Regions from separate parts of the Homo sapiens genome. Here region 1 is linked to region 2. Evidence: fine-mapped expression QTL. A gene starts in region 2. The other region holds a variant in brackets. All regions are shown on one strand. Distances are from middle to middle.

Region 1 (11,755 bases), 320 kb before region 2:
CCTAAATTGGCTGAGATGAAATATGCAGGATCTACCGGAAAGTAGGCTTTATATATAAATTAAGTTCAGATTCAAGAAAAGGCAGTTATTGAGATTCACTGCCACTGCATGTAGATCCTTATGTGGGGATTTCTAAGAATCATTGTCCAGCACCTAAACTGCAAAGCAAACCGGTAATAAATCAGACAACAATTAAGAGCCAAGTCATCTTGAGACAAGAGCTCAGGACTCAGAGAAGCAGCCTGCAAATGTGAAATGGACATTCAGAAGTCAGTGAGTTTCTGAACTAGCAGTGCCCGGTTACGAAGCTGTTGAAGAGCCTTGTGGACTGCTTTATATGTTCTGGGTAGTTCCATAGGTCCTCGCAGAAAGAGAAAATAAACCTTTCGTTGAAATTAACCTTAGACCTAGATTCTTAAAGGACTCAAACTTTTCGCGGGGAAGGAAAGGCCAGTCTATTGACAGGAGCTGTAGATATTAAGGCCTGTGGGGGGTGGGGGAGGGGGACTCATTATCTGGGAAAAGCCACACCCTTAATCCATCATAAACAGTGATGCCTGGGGCACAGTTGAGACTACACCTTGGAGGAAGAATCTAGGTTTTTCCTATCCAACTCCAAAAGAAACACATTTCAATGGCAACTGCTGAAAAACAAGCAAACAAAAAGTACCAGCACCTTTTTGTTTCTTTGGTAAGAAGGCGAAACATCCCAGATTGTCTAAAAAAAAGAAATTCGGGAAATCAGAACGTTTTATCATGATCTGGGGTTATGTTGTCCAGTAAGATAGCCACTAGTTATATGTGGCTACTGAACATTTGAAATGGGACTAGCATAACTGAGGAAGCCAAATTTTCATTTTGCTTTATTTTTGCTTCAATTTTATTTATATTGAAAACAAACAGTTTTTAATATTCTTCCATTAACCATAACTTCATTGGTTTGGGAGAACAAGTTTACTTTAACCCATGAAAATATGGCAACTGAATTCAGATGTGCTGTAAATGTAAAATATCCTCCAACCTTAATGATTTAGTACATTCTTTTCACTAACGTAAAATGTCTCATTAAGTCTTTTTTGATTACATGTTGAAATATTTTAGCTAAATAAAACATTAATGTCACCTGTTTATTTTCACTTTTTAAAGTGGCTACTCAAAAAGTTTAAATTACATATATAGCTTATATTTCTTTTGGACAGCACTGGCCTGGAGTACAGTTCAAAAATAGGGCAAAAATTCAGAGTTACTTCTTCCACATCTGAGTTTTGCGAACATTTATTCCTGCTACATACACACCAGTCTGTGTATCTACACATAATGAAAAACAGACTTTTCTCAATCCCCTCATATACAGAGGGCAGGTGAGTGAGCCAGTGAGAGAAGACTGAGAGGTAAGTGGATCATATAAATTAAGATGGCCTAACAACATTAGAATCATTAGGATTTAATCCTATAACTTATGACAACAGTCCAAGATGCAAAGTGATTTTTAAAAGTGATCTAAATTAAATTTTCTAGTTTTCCTTTTCTTTCCCTTTAATAGGTTTCATGAAAATCAAGAATTATAAGGCGGGGAGGTAAGGCTGGAGAAGACAATCTAATAAAGCGATGTAGGACAAATGAGAAAAATCAGGCTTCCTTATTCTACTCCAACACTTTCCAACTGTCATGACCTTCATGGTCTGTCTGTACCTCAATTCTCTGATCAGTAAAATTTGGATGAAATATGCTGGACTCTGTTGAGACAAAATGAAAACATAAGGAGAGTCTATCATCTGTAAATCACTACATTATGTACCCATTAGTATTTTATTGTTAGCAAAGATTAATAGAAAACTGACAACTCCAAGGCTGGATGGCATGAAGCCCTACACCTAGTAGTTGCTGCCATAGTCTGATTTGAGGTTCCTCAAATCATTCTTCCCCAGCCTAATCATTTTTTCTCTTCAGACCTGGAATCCTGCCATCCTCTCGCGTCATAGTTTGGGGGTTACTGCCTGCATATGCCAATGAACAGTATAGCCACGTGACACAGAAATGAAGGCCACAGAACCATAATTCATCAGTTATTCAATGTGTTAGCTGACAACTTGGAAATCATAGAGCACTCAACTCCAAGTTACTTCCTGAAAAGCAGAGAAATGCTTCCTCAGTGAGGCCACAGAACTCACAGCTTTACATTTTACCTACAATTTGCACATGATCCACATGATCTGGCCTCGGCTTTCCCTCAACCCCTTACAACTGTTACAGTTTCATAGCCTTCTGTCAGTCACTAGACAAAACTCAGACACTTCCTTCCAGTACTGGCAACATTACTGCACATTCTTCTTTTAGGTTTTCAGCCCTGGCTACACATTAGCATCACCCGAGGAGCTTTTAAATCTGTACCATTGTGTGTTTCTGATGCCCCCCACGCCATGTTGTTTTGTTTGTTTTCGTTTTTTGTTTTTTGTTTCTTTGAGACAGAGTTCTACTCTTTTTGCCCAGGCTGGAGCGCAACGGTGCGATCTCGGCTCACTGCAACCTCTGCCTCCTGGGTTCAAGCGATTGTCATGCCTCGGCCTCCCAAATAGCTGGGATTACAGGCACCTGCCACCACACCCGGCTAATTTTTTTTTGTATTTGTAGTAGAGACGGGGTTTCACCATGTTGGCCAGGATGGTCTTGATCTCTTAGACCTCGTGATCCACCCGCCTCAGCCTCCCGAAGTGCTGGGATTACAGGCGTGAGCCACCCGGCCTCTAATGCCCCCTTTCTTTCATAACATTACACACCAAGTATTATTTGGCAAACTTCTCATCCCCTATACTGTATTACTTATTGACATTGTTTCCCAGCTCAGGCCTACACGCTTGGCACATTCTGTCTCTCTGGCCACAATGATCGTGTAAGCAAGGCTGAAAACCAACTTAAAGGAATGGGAAGAGTTACAAACTTAAGTCTCCCACACATGATGCAGGATGATGACTTTATCAGATATTTTCATGATTTTATGATATTTATCAGACATTTTCTCCTGGGAAGTTTATGTTAGAGTAAAAATCATGTATCATTAGGGAGTAGAGGTAATGCTAAAAGCAAGGACTGAGAGTAGTTAATTCATGAGAATGAATGATGGAATCCCATGACGTGATAGATCAGCTGCTACACTATGGTCTCAATAGTTCAATTATTCATAAAATTACACTGATCGTAGTTTTCTAATGTGACATTTTTGTTTTGATTATTCGGTTGGTCAGACAACTGAGTAACCAAATGGTTTCGCCTACTTATTTGGTTATTCAGTTGTTCAGTTTCTTGACCTTTTTACCCCATGCTTCCTTAACATAAGCTGAATTTATCTCTGTTCAATGTAACACAAAAGCCCGTATTTAGAGCCAGATTATACCAGTTTCCAGCTGTGTCCTCTTAAACATATTACTCATTCTCTCATGTCTTCCATTTCTTTCCTTAAAAAATGAGAATACCACCTATCTCCTATATATGTTTGCAAACATGTTTACAAGATATATGTGAATTACCTTGCACAGTTAGCATCTCTCAGGATGTGAAAGTGACCGTCTTCCTCCTCAGTAATTTACTCTTTGTCTTATCAAAGCCATTAAAACCCCTCAGAGGTGATTAAATTTGCTGTGATAAACAGTGGGGTTATTAAGCAAAGTAGTAAACTATGAACACACCTAAGTTTTTTCTTAAATATTGTAGTGGAGCTGGAAATTTTTTTTTTTAGGTATTTCTTCCATATCCACAAAAAAGCAGCAAGCCCACTGAAACTCATCTGTTTGTGCTACTAAATAATCCCCTACTTTTCCTACTGTAGGTTGATTTATTGGTCCCCACTTTCTCATTCCTACTTAATAGGATGGCATATCTAGCCTATGGTGGGAAATGTGATAGCCTTTGGTCAACGGGGTGTTAAGAAAACATGACAGGAGCAGAGCCTTGAGATGGGCTGGCATGTTTGGGCTTGCTATCTAGTGACAACCTATGAAAACATGCACTGGGTGGCCGGTGCCATTCCAGTGTGTGCCTCTGGACGTGACACATCAAAGAAATCCAAACCAAACCTGCCGCTGAAAGCCAAGCCTAGCAACTACCAGCCTGATGCAGAACCAAATCTAGATCAACTTAGGTCAGCCAAACCCCGCATGACCATGAGAATTAATGCTATTTAAAACCATTAAGTTGGAGGTAATGATTATTACTTGATATTATTGTTTTGAGAGCTGACCAATACATCTGCCCAAATAAACGCGTTTGTTCACATCATGATGTTGTACTGAACCCCTATAACCCTCAATAGCGAAGGCATCAGGTTCAAGAGACTGAGGAAGAAACCCATAGCCAGCAAACGAGGCATTGGGTTTTATTAGAGGTTTACATACAGGGGAGGGAATTCAGTAGTGGTGGGCTGGACAGGAGAAGTGCCTTACCTGTAGAAACGATCCAGTGGTGGCAGACTGGACAAGATAGCCTCGCAGCACAGTGGTAGTGATGGCGGCGGTGGGATGAGCGGGCAAACCAACGCTGCTTGCGGGCAGCATGCAGTTTATATAGCATTTTTACTTAACCCTCTGCCCTTAATGACGTTCACCTGGCAACCTTCATCCAACCCAAAACTCGGGGCCTCAATCCGCTGTATGTATGGCCCGTGTTCCACGGGATGCACTTGGGGCTCAGATGTTCCTCATAGACAAGGAAGGGCTCTCTTGCTGGGCTACTCCCAGATTCCGTAGCTCGGAAAACACATTCAGGTGTGTCTGCAGTACAGGGTCATTCTAAGGGTATGCGCACATTATTGCAATCAGGTGCATTTACC[A/T]TATACTTGATTACCTATCTTACTGGTTATGTTGTTGTTTTGTGTGTACGTGTGTGTATGCATGGGTGTTTTTACAGAGTCAGATGTCAACCGCAGGGACAATACAAGTGTCTTACTCATTTCAGCCTGCTGTAACAAGATACCATAGACTGGGCAGCTTAAACAACAGAAATTTATTTTCTCACAGTTCTGGAGGCTTTAAGTCCGAGGTCAGTGTTCCAGCGTGTTCAAGTTCTGGAGAGGGCTCTCCTCCTGATATGTAAACAACAACCTTCTCCTGTGTCCTCACATGGCAAAGCAAGAGCAAGCTCTCTGGTGTTTTCTTTACACGGGCCACCGGATCAGAGCCCCACCTGCATGTGCTTATCTTACCCTAATTAATTCCCAAAGGTTCCATCTCCAAATATCGTCCCATTGGGGGTTAGGGCTTCAGCATATGAATTTGGGGCAAACACGAATAGTCAGTCCATAACAACAAGTGAAGGACTACAGAATCTATTTTATACAGTAATATTTTCTTTTATGAGCTATATGAAAGTGACAAAGCAAGTGGTTTAGTATTGTAATACCATGACAAAGATTAAGAACTGAACTGAGCAAATACTTTATACTTCTGGTTCAGTTCATCATAACTGAATTACCCAAAAATATAAAAGGAGAGCTGTAGTTGTTCTAGAAAAATCTTCCTTCGTGTAGGAGTGGGTTTGCGGGTTACTGTGCTAATCCACACCTGGAGTTTTGGGCGTCAAGGTTGATAAGGGTCAAGGGTTTGGGTTTTGGCTCTGGCTTGTGGAAGATCGTTTTCTGAGAGCATTCTTGGGCACCAGCTGGTCAGACACTCCCATTCCAATGGGACATAGTTTTCAACAGAGAGGAATAATCCAGGTGTATATAAGGCAATACAAGAAACCTTGAGGCTTCCAGGCCTTAGCAAGAAGAATTGGAGTGGAAGTTTAAAAGCAGAACTGGAACATTTTCTAATTGAGGGTGGTAGAGAGAATTCTGATATTTATATATTCGGCTGAGGTTGAGAGCTTTCAAGGATGCTGAGCTGGCTGCTGGCTTGGAATGAACGTGTGTGTGTGTGTGTGTGTGTGTGTGTGTGTAGTGTAGTGTAAATAAGCAACATTGCTAGTCTTGTAATCTTATAATTGTTCATAAGAGAAAATACAGTCTAGAGGAAGAGATCATCTAGTTTACTGGGAACTAGTAATGCTTATCTTGCCGAGGTTTAAATGAATGATCACGGCTGTAATGACTTATAAGAAAAATTAAATCTAAGAGCACAGCCTCTGAGCAGAAACTGTATACAGAGGTTTATGTACACAGCTGTGCGATGAAAAGAATTAGATGTGCTGTGCCCTGATGCTTTTGCAATAAAGGGTTCAAAAATCTGTGGAGAACACCCTACTCCTTAGTACAACCCAGAGCAGTCTGCTGTAGCCTGCTTAATTGGTATGCTATGATCAAATCCCTCTTGATTACACCCCTAGGGTATAATAGGAGGCAGGTTTTACTTTAACGCCTTTCATCATACAGAAAGTAAACTGCTTTATGGATAAAAATAGCCATGTACAGACTCACTATTGACACCAGCCACCCCTGGTGACTTCAAGGCTCATCAGCAATGCACAACTGTTTTAAAATAAAGCAAAGAGTCACATGTAGAATTGGAATTACAGGAATAATGAGAAGTAAACAGAAAGAGGCCACGTTGCCTTGAGGGCTAACCTATAGATTAGAAAAAAATCGGGGCCCTAAAAGACACACTACTGATGGGGTCTAGGGATAGAGCTATTTTTAAAGCAGTGGTAACAAAACAATTGGTGTCACGTAACACTCCAGTAACTAAGATAATTCACTTGACTGCAAGACAAGCAAAATATAGGATGTTAAATGTGCAACTATGTCTCAAGGTTACCCAAGTTAAAATTTGGAGCAACTAAACATGTCTCATTTTACAATGACAAAATGAACACTTAGTTTTCACTGTGTTTAAGAAAAGTGTCTTTGCCACATTAAATGCATTATCAGGAGATACATTATTATCACAGCTGCAAGGAAAATATTTTTCAGATTCAAAGATTCAACAACACTGTGGTACGCAGAACTTGAATTGCTGTCAGATGAAAAGTTAAACGTCAGCAATTGAAACAACAAATATTCAGGACAAAGTGTTTATAGCCCTTTCTTTTGAGGGTTTTCACATTGAGGAAGTATGCTTTTTATCTTCTCCAGTGATACTTTAACATGGGCCTTCAAGCACCTGAATAACAGCAATTACAAAAATATATTTTTTTCATCAACGACTGGGCATTTTATGCGTTTTTTTTATTTTGCCTATTAAATATGCCCTTAAAATCGTGCTTGTTCCTCAGTCTACTTATTAGAAGTTCAAAACAAGGCTTTGGTTCAAATCCAGTTTCTGAGATAAATTTCTTAATTCATTGTAAAAAATATTAATGGTGACCAAAATTTTAATGTTTTTAGAAAACATCACAGGTAATCAGAACAAACAGGAATAAAAAGAACAAAGAGTAAAGGAAGGAGAAGGAAGGAAGAAGGAAAGGGGAAATATAAGGAGGAGTAGAGAATGAAGAGGTGAAGGGAAAAGCTGTGATTTTTATTTTCAGATAAAGCACAGGTAGAGAAAATCTATGACATTAGGAGAGTCTTTCATTTAAAAACCTCATAGTTTTAGGTAGGAGGGTTCTTATTGGTGGAATCTTTCATACTTGTTCAATCCAAATTATCCATTAATTGTTCTGTCTGATTTATTAGCTTTCATCAAATAAATATCATTTTCTATGCTTTAGCAACTTGAAATCATTTGCCAACTGTTGTTATATAATACAAGTCGAAAAAGTTGGTATGCCCAAAGGCTTATCTGGATTTTGTATTCATTTTTTCCATTTTGAAGTTCAAAACAAGTCATTTCTTTTTCTTTATTCTCTGCAATCAATACAAAATGTGTGTTCATACTATTAAGAAGAGCATGACTGTTAAGAAGCCTTAGTTCAATGGATTAGTAGACAACCATTTTTTTAATTAGTCTTCCCCCTCTGAACTTTTCTCCACTTTCCGCAGCAAATGGAAACGTAATGAGAATCTCATAGTATTCTGCCAAAATAAAGGGGATGTCAGGCAATAAAGCATATCCTTGCTAAATAGCATCACAAATCCCATATGTAGAATTATCATTTTATTTTTAAGAGTTTTTTCCACCAAAAGCCAAGAATAAAATTGCTTTGAAGGATAATTGTTAAATGGTTATGCTTTGGCTCTATATTTGAGCCTCCACGTAAGTCTTTAATTAATAATTTGTGCTATGGACCGTGTTCTGATGAGATGTTTTGCTAAGGAGATATGCTCCCTTCCCTTACTGCCACCCACAAGAGTAAATAAAAGCAAGACACTGGCGTTTTGGAAGTCAAACTGGGATTCTGAAGAAGTTCCTGGGCTCTGAGTATCATGCTACACAGTAGAGAGTCACTTCCTGCCTCTCTAATATCTAAAACAAAAGATTTGAACTGGTAGCCATTGATCTAATTCAGGCCTGAGATACATTTGGCTAGTTTGATACAGGACAGGTTAAGCCCCAAAATCAGGGCTTGGCCTGGGAGGATTCTTGGCTTTGCCTAGGAAAGAATTCAAGGGCGAGCCAGTGGCGTTAAACAGCTATGTTTTAGTGAACATTACTGCGCTTTGTGAAATAGGGACAACTCATAGGCAGTGCCTCCAAAGTTGGCAGGGTATGGGCTGCTGGCTACTGTATTTATATCCATTTATACCCACTTTCAATTACATGTAAATTAAGTGGCAGATTAATGCAAATTGAGAGACAGGTTATTTAGAACTTTCTAGGAAAGGGGTGGTAACTTCTGGGTTATTGCCATGTCCTTTGTAAACTGTCATGGTGCTGGTGGGAGTGGCTTCTGCTAATATGCAATGAGGGCTGCTGGGGATCACTTTTGTTGCCATCTGCTGGTTTCTGCTGTTTTTCTCACTTCCGTTGGTCGCTGCCTGCTGGTACCTGCCAGTTTCTTCACTTTATCCTCTGGGAATGGGAAATAAGTCCTGCCCAACTCCTACCTCAGGCTTGCACAGAATTTTTAATTGGAAAACCTTTTTCCAGTTACCCACCAAATATACATCACTGCCTACTATATATCAGGCACTGTTCCAAGTGCTTGGGATTCACCAGTAGACAACATGCACACATAAAAAAAAGTGCTCAACTTATGAGGCAAATATATAGTGCACTGGGATGTTTTACATACAACTCCAGATTCTTAAGTTCCTCTTGAAAAATAAAATATATGGCCAAAAATAGCTCTACATTCTGACATGGACACTGCTAGACTGAATTGATTAGCAGTTGCCCATTTTAGACTGGGCACAGGCGTGCCATTTGCCAGTATTCTTTCCAATTTACACAATGTCCGTATGCATTTAGATCTTTGCTTCACCTATTTCCATTCCCTTTCAGGTCCTTGCAGGTATTTTAATTGTGGACTCCATTCACTGTATTATTTTATTTTATTTCAGTTCAGTTTGTATCATTTTGAGTTCCTGTTTTTAATTTAGTATAATATCATAGAAAGTGTTTGTACTTAATTCTACGGCCGGGTGCGGTGGCTCACGCCTGCAATCACAGCACTTTGGGAGGCTGAGGCGGGCGGATCACGAGATCAAGAGATCGAGACCATCCTGACCAACATGGTGAAACCCCGTCGCTACTAAAAATACAAAAATTAGCTGGTCGTGGTGGCACGTGCCTGTAGTCCCAGCTACTCAGGAGGCTGAGGCAGAAGAATCACTTGAACCTGGGAGGCAGAGGTTGCAGTGAGCCGAGATCGCGTCACTGCACTCCAGCCTGGACAACAGAGCAAGACTCCGTCTCAAAAAAAAAAAAAAAAGAAAGAAAAAGAAAAAGAAAGAAAGAAAAAGTGTTTGTACTTAATTCTAATGCAGAATGTTATGGATTCTTATATTGGTTCTGGTATAAATAAGCTAAATAAATTTAAACATGTTTTTTAAACTCTGTGTGGTCCAAATATATTCTCAGTAAAGTAAGAGTTTGACTTATTTGTGGGTTTGAAATTGAGTTCAGTTGAAACTCACAATTCAGTTGAGCTGCTGTAATTTCAGTTTTATGGTTCCGTCTTCCTTATGCTATATATTTTTAAAAGAGGTTTTGTTGATAAAAAAAAGAAAGTTTGTGAACCACTGGGCTTTCTGATCTCTATGATCTCCTACAAATTTAAACTTATGTGATTTAACACTAATCAAAAGCAAATCGGTATTCCTATTTAACTTTTTATATACAAAGGTCTTATTTCCTTAAAATTCCCTAAGTTGGAATAATATCTTAAAAGCTGTTCTTCCATAGTGTCAATTAAGTGCATAATAAACTAAAAATATTTGCTGAAAATACATACACATCTGGTAAAATTGTGTTGGTATGAATAGGAATAATAAATACAAAAATGAAAATTGGGAAGAGAGAATAGTGGTGCATTTGGGAAGGGTGGCATGTGGAGGAGGGCTTCTAGAGTATTAGTCATATTCTAGTCAATTTTTCTTTAAGAGAAGGGCCCTCACTCTGTTTCCCAGGCTGAAGTTTAGTGGCACTATCATAGCTCTCAGTCTAACCTTGAATTTCTGGGCTCAAGCCATTCAACTGCCTCAGCCTCCTGAGTAGCTAGGACTATAGGTGCATGCCACTATGCCCAGATAATTTTTTAATTTTTTCATAGACTTAATGTCTTGATATGTTGGTTAGGCTGGACTCAAACTCCTGGACACAAGCAATCCTACCACCTCAGCCTCCCAAAACTCTGGGATTACAAGCACAAGCCACCACACCCAGCCCCCTATTTCTTAAGTGAAGTGATTATGAGGAATAGCTCAATTCATTATTGCTCTATATTCCTTACACATGTAAATCTTATATGTACATCTATAGCAAATGAAAAAAAAGGAATTTTCGTTGATATTTCCTTTAAATGAAGATCACATTGGAGGTCAAAATGTCACACCAAAAGGAAAGTAAAAAACTCAAAGTAAAGATATTTTGTTAAAATTATGAAGTGTTAAAATTGCAAATGACATCTCATTTGTAAATATTGTATTATTATTTATTAAGAATTACTCGAATAAGCCAAAATGATGAAAATGCTTGTTATATAGAGAAATCTAAAATGTAAGGCAGTAAGCAGCTACTCTTCCAATAACTCCAAAAGATGAAAATATGTTTGGTATACTAAAAAAAATCTAATCTGTAATGTAGTCAGTGGTATATTTTGAAAGAAAAGTAAAACTATAGTTTTGATTATTTATAAAAGAATGAATTATTTTATATTTAAAATAATTAAGTCAGAGTTAAATAGTAGTAACATGTAATTTTTAAAATTGATAGGAAGTGTATATTATACAAATGTGATAAACAGCATTTATACTGTGGAAAATTTGTATCAATGACAGAAGGTAATCTCCCTTCTTACTACAATTCTTTTTTAAAGGGAAAAGAATATAAAAGATGAACAAGTGTACAGTCTGAAAAGGTTAATTTTCTTCTTTAAAAATTTCAACACTTTGAAAGTACCTGCATTCAACTTCTCTTCAAAATTATTACTTCTTAAACTACAGTCAGCCAAGCAATTTGCTATTGAGAACTCTCAAAATCCATTATTAAATACAATTTTCAAACATACCCAGTTTTTTGAAACACAAATTTTAACTTTGCTTTTGAAACTGACTGATGAGAAATTACCTAACTTTGAAAAAATATTCATTAAAAAGTCCATATTCCACCTAGTCATGTGCTAAATATCAGCATTATAAGCAGCTGTTTCAAAACCTAGTTTTATGCAACATGTGCCCTTTTTAAAATTTTTCATAAAATGTAATATCTGTTGGTAGCACTACTAA
Region 2 (11,755 bases):
ACCAGTCTTAGATATATTTCAGATTTCCAAATTGGCATGAGAAAATCAATTCATCAATTTGCTAGCATTTTTAATTTATGGACAATTATTTTCTTAAAATGGTATGTAATCAAAATACTGAGTTAAAAATTCTGAAAGAGTCATTTAAGAACAACAACAAACAACAACAGCAACAACATTTTATCAGCATGGCAAGGAAATGACAACTCCATTTCAATTAAAGGATCATTGTCCATTCTCCCCCAGTTCCCATTAGTGAGGAATGGGGTTCATAATGACAGAGTGAAAGTGAGGCATTGAGGGAGAAGGCAAAAGATCACAAAAGAAAGCAGGAATACATTGATTTCTAAACCAAATCCAGACTACTAAGAACATTGGTTTTCTCAGGGCTTACTATCATTACATATACTACGCAAAGTCACCTTCAGAGGTTGTAGGCCTCCAGAAAATTGCTCTGTGTGTTCCGTTGCCTACTGAAATTCCCAAGTATTTTGAACGAGTGATATCAGATTAAAATAAAGATCGAGCTCAGAGTTGAATAGAAATTATCCCTTAAAATGGCAGCCTAAACAGAAGATGTGAGCTATAAAAGAGGGAGTACTGATCTTTGTGTTTTTAATGGGAATGAGGTAGAGGTTGTATGGCCGTGAGATGAGGACTCTTTTTATTTTATTTTTTTTTAACTTTTAAGTTCAGGGCTACAAGTGCAGGTTTGTTACATAGGTAAACTTGTGCCATAGGGGTTTGCTGTACAGATTATTTCATCACCCAGGTATCAAGCCTAGTACCCATTAGTTGCTTTTCCTGATCCTCTTCCTCCTCCAACCCTCTACCCTCCGAAAGGCCCCAGGGTGTGTTGTTTCTCTCTATATGAGGACACTTTTAAGCATAAGACAGCAGAGCCATTTCCCTTCCTCATTCTCATTTGTCTGCTGCCTATCAGAATTGTGCTTAAGAAAATTTATATGCCCTTAAAACGCTGGAGCCAAATGTATTTTTTTGGTCTTTTTGTTGGGCCATATTCAAGGAAGTAATCTTGAATGGGGAAACAGAAAGGCTATGCCCTGGGTGTTAAAGTATTTCATAATCTCTAGAGGAGCCATCTGGTTTAAGAAGGCACATTGAATGCTATAATATGCTGTAATATATGAGGGAAACAGACTTTTTATACTATCAAGCCTTTCATGAAAAAATTTCATGAAAAAATAAACAAAATCATTTTAGCTTTTAATCTTGGAACTATATTTAGTATAGGAGTGATTCACAAATAGCAGAGTTACTCTCCCATTCGAAGGGGTTATCAGAATCTCTGGAAGACACATTCACTTTTAGTATTAAGTAGAGGGAGCTTGAAATTTTGCAAGGATTTTAGGGACAATTCTATAAGTGACATAAATAGAAAAAACCCTCCAAACTTGGTAAAATAATAAATTATCCCATGGTGTTGCCATTTTAACTTTGATATCTGTATTAAAATGAAACTTCAGAACTCCAAACATATGTCAATATTTTATAGCATGAAACCCCAAGGAAGTCTAACTAATAGATGTTTTACGTAGGGAAAAGGTGAAGACTACAAACTATTTATTTGCTTGGTTTGTTTGTTTTTTGAAGATCAGTATACTGCATTGAGCACACTCTACAAGGGGAAATATTTTCATGAAACCTGGTTGCATTTAATAAAAACGTTTATTTCCCACACTGCAGCCCATGACCTTCCCCAGAAAATATTCCAATACGAACCAACTGCCTTGATAACAGAACACAAACCTCCTAGGACTATAGCAGGACTTTGTGAGAAAGAAAACCATTGCCTCTCTCTGAATCCAATCAAAACCTGAATGTACTGTATAAAAATAAACCAAGGTCATCATTATTCCTTGTCATTGTGATTTGGCGTGCCTTCAAATTATATACCCTGTATATTTCAAATAACTGCACCGCCTCCATTAACTGAGTTTGACATCACTTTAATCAATGTATCTTTTCAGAATGAAAGGCAGAAATGTCAAATTCCTACCATTATAAATTCTTTTAACTCTCTAATCTGCATTAAATAAAAGGTTGTCTTTGAGAAATAATAAATGCTCTAAAGAAATATAACTAGCATCAATTTTATTTTAAAATGTAACTGGGAAAAGATTAAATGTCAACACATCTCTTCATACAGAGGTGATTTCCCAAGAAACTATTAAAGCCTTACTTACATGAGGGGCCCCTCCCAAGGCTGTATCCAATTTTCTATTATTTTTCTTAAAATAGCACCCCCAATTGTATAACCTCAGGCCCCATAAATCCTTTCTTCCTGGTTCGTTCTGTGTTGTCAGACAGGGAATGTACATTAGTCTCATTTGTCAATTCCTTAAAAAATGATGTGTGTTTAAAATAGAAAATTTAGAAAAATGAACAGAAAATTATCTTTAAAGAAAGGTTAATTTCTAATTAGACCCTCTTAGGAAACTTTATACCCTGTGATTTGAATGCATATAAATGTGCATATATATAAATATATATACTCATACCAAAATACTGTGTTTCTTGTATGTGTGATGAAATAAAGAGTTGATGAAAAAGTATGATAAATCATTTTTAATAAGTTAGGAAAATATTACAATAGAAGGTGGAAGGAGAAGGAAAGTTTGGGAAATGACTTTGTTTTACTCTTGAGATAAAATTTTGATGAAAGATAATAAAATAGAATTTTGAAAAACACCTGATGTTTCCAAGACAATGATTTTAATCTCTTTTATTAAACTACACAAGTGGTTAAAAACTTGACAATTTGTTTCATATGTAGCAAATGACATGGAGTACAGGGATTTCAAATGAATGCTATAGGAATAAAGAGGAAGCTGTATTAATATCTGTGCCCAAATGATGAATTTGCAATTCAGTACTGTCTAGCTGGAATAGTGTCAGCCAACACCTTTTTCCCCTTAAATAATGTAATTATGCATAGAACACTTTGTAGTCTTTTTTTAAAGTTTAGAGTAACATCTATATGACATACTCTATTGTATTTTTCATAATGTTATGTCATGTAAGATACACCAAAAGCTTTGTATTAACAGTATATCATCAATTTAGATCAGCAATCTCTTTTTCGTAGTTAAGATGTCTTTAAAAGATTCTGCAGATGAAATTCTAAAAGGTGATTTTATTAGACCTCAGATGACTTACATCATTTAAATATATTCAAATGAAATGTCTATTTGCAGTACACTATTTGAATAATTCTTTACAATGCATTATTTGAGTAATTCTAAAAGTGAACAATACAATATGTTTGACAATACAGTGATCTCTTTTAAAGGGTAACTGTTTTGGTTAAAAAACAACAAAACGTACTTTTGTAAGTTTATCAAACTACGGCAAATTTACAAACTGGATTCAAATGTCAAACATCCAAGTAGCAGTATGTTGTCAAACAGCAAAATTTAATGTATAATATAGCCCTGAGTATATCTCCGTTTTTTCTTACCAAACTCATTGTCATGTTGCATAGGCATTACTTGATGATTTTTTAAATGCAGCGTGAAAAAATCCTACAGGGCATGTCCCAAAAAGATTACCTTTCTTCGCATTCTAAGAATTGAAAGTTATTTGAATATCTATGACAAAGCAGAGTGTAGATTTACCTTGCTTAATTTCAGCAGAATTGCATATATTCTTTCAAAATTGCTCTATATACTTGTATATGATGTTAATTATGTAGAATATATATATATATAAAATCACTAGTGATTTTGATGGTATTTATGTTACATATATCAAAGAAATAAAAACAAAAAATAAAAATGTGTGTGTATATTGCAAACAACAGATATATGCCATGCATATATTTGTAATGATAGTAAATATAATAGTTTTTCAATCTAAAAGTAATAATGATGTCCACCAAAAGAAATTTATGAAGCAAGCCAACAATGTAAGTAAATATTGTATTATAAAGTCTGGTAGCTTTTAATGTGACTCAATACATGGACAATGTTAACTTATTTCCACAAAGTTTTCCCAGTGGCAAAACTTCTGCCTTTTTTTTTAGTAGTTGTGGAGCATTACTTATTTGGAGAGATTTATTTTTTCATTCTTAATTATAGGCATTGCCCTCATATCTATTTTAGAATAACTACACTCCACAAGTCAAAGATGGGTGGGGAAGAGATAAACTCCCATCTCTTCGGGACACACAGTCCTTATCATATATTATTTTTACTGTTGTGCCACAGTCCATTTTTAAATCCTTCATTAGTCATCATGACTTTCTTAAAAATAAACGAAATAGTTGTATTTCTATATGAAAGACAAACTAAAAAATTGAACTGAAAAGCTGGCTCATAATAGACATGAAACAACAAGGTGACTTTACTACTAAATATAATTAGGAGTTCCTCAAGTTTGTATGTCGTTTACCCAAGAAATCATCTGATCATTTGATAGCATAGATCACATCATTATTTGAAATAATTATCATGATATGCTACAGAAAAGAGCATTTGAAATAGTAAATGTGAGTAAGAAACATTAAAATTAAATCTTTATCAATACTTTTCACATCCTTCAATTATCCGTCCCAACTCATTTTATTCTTTATTTTATCCATGATGTGTCAGAGAAACTTTTTCTAACTTTTAGGCCTCCATGTAGTTCCTATACAGTAGTTAGTTCAATTGAGAATATATGTCAGGTCAGTAACCTTTATGTAACTGTTACTAAATACGGAAGTATCAACTAATCAAAATAATAACTCAGATATACAAACTATCTCACAGCAATCAAAATAAATCTGTTATAGTCAAATGACATTCTGCATATTCTATTACTGCAGTGGTTTGTTAATCAAGAAATCATGTGTTTAGTTCTATCGCAAAGAAAAACTTTTACACTCCATTTCTGTTGAAAAGTTTTCCCAATGAAAAATATATATTCCTGAATAAATACATATATATATGCAGTATATATAACATTTATGCTTCTTTGCAAACTACTGTGATAATTTAAAATCAATCTACCTAATTAGTGAGCTTGTCACAAACTAAACGTTATGCCACAGTAAAATATATTTTTAGTTACTTTGTACTTACAACAGTCCTCTACTTCTTCCCACCAAAGCATTTTGAAAAGTGTATATCAAGGCAGCGATAAAAAAAACCTGGTAAAAGTTCTTCAAACTTTATTGCTCCAGTAGGCTTAAAAACAATGAGAAACCAACAAACTTCAGCAGCTTTAAAAAAAGTAACACTTCAGTTTTTCCTATTCGTTTTTCTCCGAAGGTAATTGCCTCCCAGATCTGAGTCCTGTAGGGGGAAAGTGAGTGATCCCAACACTGAGTGAGTCAACACAGTAACTGATGCCAGGATTCTGTAGAGGCCCCCGGATATTTCAAATTCCAGGACCTGCGCACAAGCAAGTGACCCGCCTTCTCTCTCAAGTTGGTTTCCCATAATAGGACTGTCCATGGTCACTACATATAAGGTTGTGCTTCCAGCATGGCAAGCTCTGTGAATTCAAACAATGCTCAACTGTGTTCTGATTAATATCCAAACCAGAATAGCACAGTGGACATAGTACTTGCTTTTAAAGCCTTCTAAACACAAAAACTATTCAGTACAAAAGCATAACAATACTTTCTGTAACTTTCATGTGAATTTATTAACAGAGCAGAAAATCCGGATTCAAAATTGACTTTTAAATGCCTTTTTTATCCTCTCAACAACACCAAAAATTTCACTCTACCAAATAAAAAGGAATGCCCAGAATAATCCATGCATTTGTTATGTATCCACTGTCTACCAAAGTTATTTTTTCCCCTTGGGATTCAATCAAAAGTTATGTATTGATGATGCCAACAGTCTGAATAAGAGAAGCAGCAGCAGAATGCAGCAGCTGAATTCTGAAGGCAGAATGTGTGTGTGTATAGGTCTCATGGGACATGTTTTCCTGCTAAAATAAAGAATACTCTTATAATGCAGGAAAGAAATTTTTCTCAAATCCTAAATTTCAGTTGTGAATTATGCTAAAACTTCTTTACTAACAAATTATTCTTTCTTCCATTTCTCTGGTGCCAATTCTTAAAACACCATTTTTTTAGACATTGAGTTAATGATCATTTAATGGTTCTGAATAGAGGCTTGTTTTCTGTATTAAGTGAATACAGTTGTATTATGTCATTCAGCATGTAAATCATTCTTTGCCAATAGAAAGCTTCTTCATCTTGTTCCTTATTACTTTTATGCAACAGGCGAGCCCAAAATTGATAGAAAACATTGGAAACATTTTTTAAAGAAAGATATTCTTTTTATAGTTATAATAATCCCTACTAAAATTTTTGTTTGAGTGTTTTTATTGTACCATTTGTTAAAGTGACAGACTCATTTTTCTATGTCAAACATTCAACTGCTTGCGACTGCAATGAGTAATAGATAAAAATTAAAAAAATATTGAGTCAGACTGTGATGTTTACCTTAATAGTTAATTGTACATTTTGTGTTTTAGAATATTATTGTCATAACATTGCTATTTTCCCCAGCAAAAGGTGTATGAGATAAAACATAAGGCCTAATTTTAATTTAAAACATTCTTTTCCCTAGGTCACCTCCTTTCCTCTCAGTGTGGTTGTCTAAATATGCATATAAGCAAAATTTTCATAAAACAACATAGAAAAAATGAAAAAATTGTTTTGGGGCTGATTTGGCTCTAAGTCTGCATGTTAGCATCAGTGTCCCTCTATGCTGTGAGGTACAATATTGCCCAGAGTATAAGTGCCCTTTGTATCTTGCACTGTGAGTTTTCTACAAACATAAACCCTTGTTTAGGCCAAGGCGTGAATACAACTTGTCGGTCCCAAACCAACATCAATATCACGTGGGAACTTCTGAGAAATGCAAGTTGACACGAGACCTCAAAAGTCAGAAATTCTGGGGTTGGGACACAGCACTCTGTGTTTTACCGGTGATTCTAATGCATGGTCAACTTTGAGAAACCCTAAAGTGTATGTTTCTAAAAACAACCGTGGTTCTAAATGTAACAAAGATGTGTCCTGGGTAATGTCTAAAGCACCAAATCCTGATAGATCTGAATGCCCTGAGATACATTTAATTGCCATTCAGCCTTAGTTGATAATCAGAATTTATTTGGCACCTATAATGATTTCTGCATTGTGTGGAATGCATATACTTCCCTTAAGATTTTATAATCCAGGTGCAAATATATGCTTACAATAACTGGAAAAGTGAAAGGCACGTAAAATAAAATTTAGACCGAACAAATTGAACTCCAGTTCAGACTGTGTCACCACAGTACTTTCTTGTGTCCCTTAATCACTTATCTTTCTCCTTTAGTCCTCAGAATAACTACATCTTGTAGGTCTTATTAGCCCCATAATAAAGGAACTTGCTCAAATTTCCATTTTTAATAACTGTCACAGAATTTTTAAAAATTTATTTTAACTTGTTATTTTCAAATACTTATAGATTCACAGGAATTTGCGGGGATAGTATACAGAGATCCCATGTACCCTTCACCCAGTTTCTCCCAAAGATTAACTACAATAACTACAATTCAGTATCCTACAATAACTACAATTCAGTATCAAAACCAGGAAACTGACATTGATATGTATACATATTTCTATTTCATCACTGATTTGTGTAACCTCAACCTCCACAAATAAACACCTGTTTCATCACCACAGAGATTTGCCTCATGCTACCCCTTTACAGTCACAACAGTCACCCTCCCTAAATATCCCTAAAGCCTGGTACCAATCAATTTGTTCTCCATCACTGTAATTTTGTCATTTTAAGAATATTAGATAAATGCAATGATTCGGTATGTAACCTTTTGAGATTGGCTTTTTTTTTTTTTTTGGCATTCTGTACTTGAGATCCATTTAAGTTGTCATCAATAGCTTATTTCCTTTTATTGCTGAGTAGTAGTTCATGGCATGGATGTTCTATAGTTACTTTATTCACATACTGTGGGATATTTTCGTTGTTTCCAGGGTTTGGTCACTACAAATAAAGCTGCAAAACAATCATGTAGTTTTTCATTTTTCATTCCTCTAGATTCATGTCCCAGAGTGTGGTTATAATTTACCATATAAATTTTAGAATAAGTTTATCTACAAATAGATCTACAGATCTATCTACAGAATATCTTTCAGGTAGAATTTTGATAGGAATTGCATTAAAATTATGAATACATTTTGGAAGAATTGATGTTTTTACCGCATTGATTCCTCCAATTCATTAACATAGTACATATGTCCAATATTTAGGTTATCTTTAATTTATTTCATCATACTCGGCTTTTTTACACAGTGCTTTGTGTTGTGATTAGATATATTAATATTTCTAATATAATGGCACTACTGTCGGTTATGCATGTGATTGCACAAAAAAAGGAAAACAGCAGAGTTTCCAAAACCCGTTCTTTTCCTGTTTGTTTTTGCTTTTTAAGAAATTTTCATTTAAGAGATGGAGGCTTGCTCTGTCATCCAGGCTGGAGTGTAGCGACACAATCATACCTCGTTATAGTCTCAAACTCCTGGGCTCAAGTGATCCTCCTGCCTCAATCTTCTGAGTAGCTGGGTCTACAGGTGAATGCCACCATATTCAGCTAATTTAATATTTTTTTTAGAGACAGGGTCTTGTTATGTTGCGCAGGCTGGTCTTTAACTTCTGGCCTCAAGTAATCCTCCTGCCTCAGCCTCCCCAGGAGCTGGGATTATAGGCATGAGCCACCACACTCGGCCAGTTTGTAAAAAGAAGCACATTTAAAAATGTTTACGTTGTTAAAAAATGTTATATGCTTGTTGGCCGCTTGTATGTCTTCTTTCAAGAAGTGTCTGTTCAGGCCGGGTGTGTTAGCTCATGCCTGTAATTCTATTACTTTGAGAAGTTGAGGCAGGCAGATCGCTTTGAGCTCAGGAGTTCAAGACCAGCCAGGGCGACATGGTGAAACCCCATCTCTAAAAAAAATACAGCCGTGATGTCAGGCGCCTGTCATCACAGCCACTCAGGAGGCTGAGGCTGGAGAATCGCTTGAGCAGGGGAGGTGAAGTTTGCAGTGAGCCGAGACTGTGCCACTGCACTTCAGCCTGGACTAAGAGCAAGACCCTATCTCAAAAAAAAAAAAAAAAGTGTCTGTTCATATACTTTGCCCATTTTTAATGAATGTATTTGTATTTGGTTTGTTGATTTAAGTTTCTTATAGATTCTGGATACTAGGCCTTTGTCAGATGCATATTTTGTGAATATTTTCTCCCATTCTTCGTCTGTTTACTTTGTTGATGTTTCTTTTGCTTTGCAGAAGCTCTTTGGCTTAGTCAAGTTCCACTTGTCAATTTTTGTTTTTGTTGCAATGGCTTTTGGGGACTTAGTCATAAATTCTTTGCCAAGACCAATGTAAAAAAGGGTACTTCCTAGGTTTTCTTCTAGGATTTTTTACAGTATGAGGTCTTATATTTAAACCTTTAGTTCACCGTCAGTTGATTTTTGTATATAATGAAAAGTAGAGGTCCAATTTCAATCTTCTGCATGTGGCCAGCCAGTTTTCCCAGCACCATCTATTGAATAGGAAGTCCTTTCCCCATTGCTTATTTTTGTTGACTTAGTCAAAGATCAGATGGTTATAGGTGTGTCGCTTTGTTTCTGGGTTCACTATTCTGTTCCATTGGTCTATGGTCTGTTTTTGTACCAGTACCATGCTGTTTGGGTTACTGTAGGCTTATAGTATAGCTTGAAGTCAGGTAGTGTGATGCCTCTTGCTTTATTCTTTTAGCTTAAGATTGCTTTGGCTCTATGGGCTCTTTTGGTTCCATACAAATTTGGATTAGTCTTTTCTAATGAAAATGAAAAATGAAAATTGACGTTGGTAGTTTGATAAGATTAGCACTGAATCTGTAAATTGCTTTGGGCAGTATGGCCATTTTAACAATATTTATTCTTCCAATCCAAGAGCATGAAATGTTTTGCATTTATTTGTGTTGTCTCTGATTTCTTTCAGCAGTGTTTTGTAGTTCTCCTTGTATAGTTCTTTCACCTCCTTGGTTAGCTGCATGGTCATGAAAAAGAATGAAATCATGTACTTTGCAGCAAGATGAATGCAGCTGGAGGCCATTATCCTATGCAAATTAACACAGGAACAGAAAACCAAATACCGCATGTTCTCACTTATAAATGGGAGCAAAACACTGAGTACACAGTGGACATAAAGATGGGAACAAGAGATACTGGGGACTACTAGAGGGGGAATGGAGGGAAGCGGGTGTGAGCTGAAAAACTACCTACTGGGTACAATGCTCACTACCTGGGTGACTGGATCATCAGTACCCCAAACCTCCACATCACACAATATGCCCTTGTAACAAACTCCTGAACATGTACCCCCGATTCAAAATGAAAGTTGAAATTATTTTGTTAAAATTTTAATGAAATTACAATTGTTTACAGATGAATTAATTAGACATACATTTTTCAAAAATATAAAGCATAATTTTTATTACAGTGAACTCATACACATTTTTTTAAATTACTTTTTTTTGTCTACACTTAGATGATACATGTTGTAAAATGAAGACTGGCCCATGATTATATTCCAATATTAACCAGTCATCCTTGTGTTATTAAATAGATGGCATATTAATTAGAAAGAACTGAATATGGTAAACGTAAAGTGAACAAGGAGTTAATTCTTAAATAATTGGAAACCCTAAAGGCATTATTTTATATTACTTTGGAAGTGCAGGGTCATTTTCCCAACTTGTTTGATTATTTAATATAATTCCAAGCATTATGATTAATGCAGCTTCACAGGACAAATAAGTTGAAGAGAAACAGGCTTATTAGGTAATATACTTATATAAAATTCACAAATTTATTGATTAGGGAAAAAATCATTATGGATCATTTCTACTTCCTTTTTCCACAGTGATCCATATTGGTTGAAATGTTACCCATATTATAAGGCATATATTTCTTAGGTGTTTAAAAAATCTCTTTAGTTAAGTCCAATGGGAAAATATGCTAGTTTGTGAGTGAGTTTATAGGCACTAGGACCAGAAAAAATAAGACAAATAGAATTCAAGCAATTTGGAGGGTGTCCAAATAGACAAAAATGTTTCACTGATGTTTTGATAGGAATTGCATTCAAACTATAGATTAGTTTTGGAAGAATTGATATATTTACTATGTTGTATCCTCCAATTCCATTAATACAGTATATATCTCCGTTTATTTAAGTCTTTGCATTATTTCCTTAGCTTTTTAGTTTGTAGTATATAGATCTGGTAAATGTTTTATTAGATTCATAAGTATTTCATTGTTTCAGAGTGACTGCAAGATACTATGTGAAAAATTTTGGGTTTCAGTAGTTAATTGCTTGTATACAAAAATACAATTAATTTTTAATAATCATTTTACTGTGATAAGATTTAATATGAGATCTACCCAACGAACAGATTCTTAAATTATAATGCTGTATTGTTACATATAGATACGATGTTGTACAGCAGATCTCTAGAACTTATTCATCTTATATAAATGAAACTTCATATTCATTGATTAGCAATTGACTTTTATAAGTTGATCTTGTATCCTAAGACCTTAACAAACTCATCATTTCTAAGAGTAACTTTGTAGAATACCTGGGATTTTACATAGATCATCATAACATCTGCAAATGGAGACAGTATAACTTTTCCTTCCTGATTTGTACGCTTTTATCCACTTTTCTTGCATTTTTACACTAGCTA

The links. PIP is the estimated chance that this variant, and not a neighbour inherited with it, causes the effect.
Region 1: its variant is fine-mapped to the expression of DMD in nasal epithelium (TOPMed, PIP above 0.99).

What each region holds. Positions count from the first base shown.
Region 1 is chrX:32,889,949-32,901,703 of GRCh38, forward strand. All of the region lies in intron 2 of DMD (dystrophin), which reads right to left. Among named protein-coding and RNA genes, the nearest start is that of MIR548F5, 250 kb to the left of the region's middle. The variant A/T (reference allele first, on the strand shown) is at 4,823.
Region 2 is chrX:33,206,198-33,217,952 of GRCh38, forward strand. DMD (dystrophin) reads right to left here and starts at 5,352. Exons shown (of 79, transcript NM_004006.3): 1 at 5,085-5,352. The coding sequence starts at 5,115.